2 separate regions of the Homo sapiens genome follow, and region 2 is linked to region 1. Evidence: fine-mapped expression QTL. A gene starts in region 1. The other region holds a variant in brackets. All regions are shown on one strand. Distances are from middle to middle.

Region 1 (2,802 bases):
ATCAAGCAAAGTCAATTAGTCTTCTCACTTTTTAGACAGGTAAACATCAGATAAGCCAAATGCAGTTTTAAAAGTGATTTATACAACTACAGCTTCTGATATTTTTAATTCATACCATTAGGAAATTCTATATCATACCGTTTAGGATTCCAACAGTGCAATGCCCCCCAACCCCCATTCAGATTCTTTTCGTTTTATCTGCATTTGAGGTTGAAAACTTCAAGCAGAAAACAGATAAATCCAATTTTATACAGTGCTTCTGGCATTTTGAGATCCACATCACATCCCTTTCTACCCTCCCACCCTAAACCCTATGAGTGAGGATTTCTGGGGTGATAATGAAACGCTACAGAGCTCCACCTGAAGCAGAAACATACCCGCCCCCCCGAATGCAAACGCAGCACCCTTGCTCGCAGCCCTCACCGCCGCCGCCACCCAGGATAATAATAGTGTTCGAGAGCCCCAGAGCGTCCCTCCGGGGCGGCAGAGAATTCCTTACCAGCTCTCAGCGGGGTCCCTTCTCGCTCCCTTTCCCCCGTACAGGGGTCCCTCCCCAGGCGTCTACAGCCCCCATCCCTGAAGCTCCTTTCCGGGAGCCTGCGAGGCTGCGAACCCCCTCGGCGGCCGCACCTGCCCGCCCAAGCCCACGGCGCGCTGTCGGAAACGGGCGCCCCTCCGACCCCCTCCCCGGGCCGCGCCCTCCCTCCACGCCCAGCCCCGGCCCATCACGAAGGTCCCAGCGGCCCGGGCCTGCGCCCCGCGGCTCCGGCGCGATCCCCGGGCTCCCCGCCCCCACCGGGCATGAGGCCGAGAGAAGCCCGGGGATGCCTGGCTCGGCCGCCCTCGGGGACGCGAAGCCCGCGGCGTCAGGCGGGGAACTGAGCCGGGGCCCGGGCGCAGGACCCCGGTGCCGTCGCGCCCTCCCCCGGCAGTCCCTCCCTGCTCCCTCCGTCCCGCGGCCGGGCCCGGACTCACTTTCTCCTTCTTGTTTTTATTCGGCATGGCTGGAGCGGGCCGCCGCCGCCGCCGCCGCCCCTGCCGCCGCCTGCCCCCGCAGCAGCAGCGCCCCCGCCCCGGCCGTCGCGCCCCCGCGGCCGCCGCCGCCGCCGCCGCCCGGGGACTGAGTCTTTCGCTTGCTCTCGCTTCCCCTTTTCCAGACTCCCAGAGGCTGCGGCAGCCACGGCGGCGGCGGCGGCGGCGGCGGCGGCAGCGGCGGCGTCTCTCCGCCCCTCCCCCGGCCGGCCCGCCCCGCCCCTCTCCTCCCACCCCCCGGCCGGCCGCCCCGCCCCGCCCGCCGCTCGCCCCACCCCCGCGCCCGGCCCCGCCCCGCTGCACTCAACAGCGCCCTGCCATTGGTCGACGCGCCCCCACGTACCCTAACGCTCCCCGCTCCCCCCACCCTCTCCGCGCGACCCGTTCACGCCCCCGCCCTCCGTCCCGAGTCGCTGCGAGCCGGCCTCAGGCAGGCCGCGGCCTCCTGGCGCGGGGCTGACCGCTGAGCAGAGCTGAGCCGACTCAGGGGAGGGAGCATGTGGCTGCGACTGCGGTGACAGGGCCGTGGCCCGCTGTGGAGGCGCAAGACAGAGCGTGAGACGTAGGAAATGCACATTTGAAATGTATGGCAACAACTTCTGCAGCCGGCGAAACGCGAACCGTGGCCTCTTGGCCTTGCCCCCTCACCGCCGCGGCTCTCGTTGCAGTCAAGAGTGCCTGGCACGCTTTGCACTGAGGCGCACGGGGAGGCCCGGGAACCGAGCGAGCGGCAGTTTCGCGGGACACCGCTGGGCCCCGCCTCCCCTCCCTTCCCTCCCCTCCCCTTCCCTCCTCTCCCTCCACTCCCCTCCCCTCCGTCCCCTCCCCTCGACCACCCCGTCCCCTGCCCTCCCCTTCTCTCGACCAGCCCGTCCCCTGCCCTCCCCTCCCCTCCCCTCGACCAGCCCGTCCCCTCCCCTCCTCTTCCCTCGGCCAGCCCCTCCCCTCGGCCAGCCCTTCCCCTCGACCAACCCCTCTCCTCGACCGGCCCCTCCCCTCGACCGGCCCCTCCCCTTGGCCGGGCCCTCCCCTTGACCGGCCCCTCCCCTCGACCGGCCCCTCCCCTCGGCCGGCCCCTTCCCTCGGCCAGCCCCTCCCCTCGACCAGCCCCTCCCCTCGACCAGCCCCTCCCCTCACCAGCTCAGCTTTCCGCAGCTCCTCCCGCGAGGTCCCGCCCATCCGACAGCCCGCCCCTCCCTGGTTGGTCCCGCCCTCCGCAGTTTCTCCCGCAAGGTCCCGCCTACCCGACAGTCCCGTCCTTTCCTGGTTGGTCCCGCCCTCCGCAGCTTTTGCCGCGAGGTCCCACCCACCCGACAGCCCCGCCCCTCTCCAGTCGGCCCCGCCCTCCGCAGCTCCTTCCGCGAGGTCACGCCCACATGCGCAGCCCCTCTCCTCCGGCGTCGGCCCCGCCCACCGAGGCGAGGCCTCAAAGACTTGGTGGCCGCTGCGCCAATAGGATTTTATTTTTATTCTTTAATTTGGCTTGATCATAAATGGTGAGGAAACCTCTGCATGACTGGGAGTCACCTGATTTCTCTCAGCTTGTTAATAGCTGTGAGGAGAGGGTGTCCAAGGGAAAAACGTTAACTTTTCAATACAATACTTCCGCGGTCCACCTCGTGCCCAAAACTATTGAAGACGCTAAGGACAGGCGTCCCAGATTGCAGAAATGCATTAGGTAGTAAGACTCTAGGAGCGTACGGATTTCACGTGCGAGAGGCATTGGTGCTTCACCTGTGATGATGAAGGAGCTGCATCTTAACTGGCAGC
Region 2 (2,802 bases), 100 kb after region 1:
TCTGCTTCTGGTGAGACCTACGGAAGTTTTTACTCATGGCAGAAGGGAAACAGGAGCTAGTGTGTCAAATGACAAGAGAGAGAGCAAGAGAGAGAGGAGAAAGTGCCAGGCTCTTTTTAACAATCAGATCTCATGGTGACTAATAGAGCAAGAGCTCACTCATTACCATGAGGAGGGCACAAAGACATTCATGAGGGATCTGCCCTCGTGACTCAAGCATCTCGCGCTAGGTCTCACCTCCAACATCGAGGATCACATTTTAGTATTAGATTTAGAGGGAACAAATATCCAAATTATGTCAGATCCTTACCTAAAACTATATACAAAAATTAACTCGAAATGGATTACCTACTTGTAAGGCCTACAATTATAAGACTCTTAAAAGAGACAGGGCAAAATCTTCATGACATTGAATTTAGCAGTGATTTCTTGGATATGACACAAAAAGCACAGGCAACAAAAGAAAACATAGACTTATTAGACTTTATAATAATTGAAAAATTGTGTGCATCAAGAGGCAATCAACAGCTATTTTGCAAATCATATATTTGATAAGATATTAATGTTCAGAACATATACAGAACTCCTCAAACTCAAGACAAACAAAACCAAACAACCTGCTTCAAAAAATGGGCAAAGGACTCAAATAGATATTACTTTAAAGAAGATATACAGATGGCCAATAAGCACATGAAAAGATGCTCAACGTAACTAATCATTGGGGAAATGCAAATCAAAATTATGATGAAACACCATCTCACACCCATTACATGGCTATTTTAAAAAACACAAAATGAGAAGTGTTGGCAAGAATGTGGAGAAATTAGAGCCCTTGTACCATCTTGGTGGGAATGTAAAATGGTACAGCCACTGTGGGAAACAGTATGGCAATCTGTCAAAACATTAAAAATAGAATTACCATTTGATTCAGCAATTCCACTTCTGGGTATGTATCTAAAATAACTGAAAGTAGATTCACAAAGAAATGTTTATACAACCATGTTAATAGCAGCATTATTCACAATAGCTGAAATGTGGAAGCAACCCAAGTGTCCACTGATAGATGAATGAAGAAATAAAATGTATAAGGTTGTCCGTTGGTATACATGGGGGATTGGTTCCAGGACCTCCTGTGGATAAAAAAACCCACAGATGTTCAAGTCCCCAATGTAAAATAGTGTATTATTTGCATACAACTTATACACTTCCTCCCATGTACTTTAAATCATCTCTAGATTACTTATAATACCTAATATAATGTAAACATTATATAAATAGGTATACTGTATTGTTTAGGGAATAATGACAAGGAAAAAGTCTGTGCATGTTAAGTACATACGCAATTGTTTT[C/T]AAATATTTTTATCTGTGGTTGGTTGAATCCATGCATGCAGAACCCATGGATATGGATGAACAACTGTATACATATAATGGATTATTATTTGGCTTTAAAAAGGAAGGGAATTCTGATATATGCTACAAAATGGATGAACTTTGAGAACATTATGTTCAGCAAAATAAGCCCATCACACAAAGCCTATCATACAAAAAAAATACTGTATGATTCCACCTGTATGAGGTACTTAGAGTAGTCAAAATCACAGAGACAGAAAATAGGATAGTGGTTGCCAGGGGCTAGAGGAAGGTGGAAATGGGGAGTTACTGTTTAATGGTTATAGAGTTTTAGTTGTACACAATGAAAAGAGTTCTGGAGATGGATGGCTGCACAACATTGAAAACGTATTTAATACCACTGAACTGTATACTTGAAAATTGTTGAGATGGTAAATTTTGTGTTATATGTATTTTACCACAAGGAAGAAATTGGAAAAATAGTTAATACTGAGAAGCACTTTTAGCAGAAGCTGGAGGCAAGCTCTGACAGAGAATCTGATAGGGTATTTTCTCTTTCTAAGAGGAACAAAGATAGCAACCTTTCATTTTATGGAACACTGTGCACCAATACAACATTTCACTTACAATAAACCCAAATAAAAGAGCATCAGTGAGCTGTAGGACAAATTCAAAGTGGTCTAATATATGAGTAATACGGATAATTGGAGTTCCAAAGAGAAGAGAGAGAGGGAACAGAAAAAATATTTGAAGCAATAACAGCTAAATGTTTTTCTAAGTTTGATAAAAACTGTAAACTCACCTAAGAAACTTAACGAAGTCCAAGCACAAGAAACCTAAGGAAAACTATTCCAAAGCACATCATAATCAAATTACTCAAAATCGATGATAAGAGAAAAATCTTAAAAGCAGCCAGAGGAGAGCCAGCCTTGGTAGTGCACATCTGTAATCCCAGCTACTTGGGAGGTTGAGGTGGGAGGATTGCTGGAGCCCAGGAGTTCAAGACCAGCCTCAGCAACATGGCAAAGCCCCATCCCCCCAAAAACAAGAAAAAAAAAAGCAGCCAGAGGTCAGGGGTGGGAAATTATGTACATAGGAAAAAAGATAAAAATAATAGCACATTTCTTATTGGAAACAGTGAGGAAAAAGCAAAGAGACAGTGGAGCAACATCTTTAAAGTACTAAAATAAAAAACCTGCAACCTAGAATTCTATCTTAGTGAAAATATCTTTAAAAATGAGGGTAAAAATTAAAAGGTTTTTAGAAATACAAAAGCTGAAGGAGTTCATGACCAACAGACCTGCACTACAGGAAATGTTAAAGAAAATGTCAAGTAGAAGGAAAATTGTACCATGTAGAAATATGGATATACACAAAAGAATGAAGAGTATCTTAAATGGTAACTACATGGTAAATATGTAAGATTTTAAAAATTGTTTACACATCTTAAAT

Alleles and levels. Positions count from the first base shown, and alleles are read on the strand shown. Sizes are in standard deviations (SD) of each study's normalised expression.
As copies of T replace C in region 2, the expression in aorta of the gene that starts at base 1,187 in region 1 goes down (moderate effect, 0.48 SD a copy in GTEx).

The links.
Region 2: its variant is fine-mapped to the expression of PPP2R5C in aorta (GTEx, PIP above 0.99). The same link has a PIP of 0.9 or more in lung, thyroid and tibial artery.

The regions. Positions count from the first base shown.
Region 1 is chr14:101,760,094-101,762,895 of GRCh38, reverse strand. PPP2R5C (protein phosphatase 2 regulatory subunit B'gamma) reads right to left here and starts at 1,187. Exons shown (of 16, transcript NM_001352913.2): 1 at 976-1,187. The coding sequence starts at 1,002. RefSeq lists silencers at 552-621, 672-891, 1,032-1,271, 1,282-1,441, 1,902-1,951 and 2 more.
Region 2 is chr14:101,659,151-101,661,952 of GRCh38, reverse strand. The region is part of intron 1 of LINC02320 (long intergenic non-protein coding RNA 2320); the gene reads left to right. Among named protein-coding and RNA genes, the nearest start is that of LINC00239, 70 kb to the left of the region's middle. The variant C/T (reference allele first, on the strand shown) is at 1,351.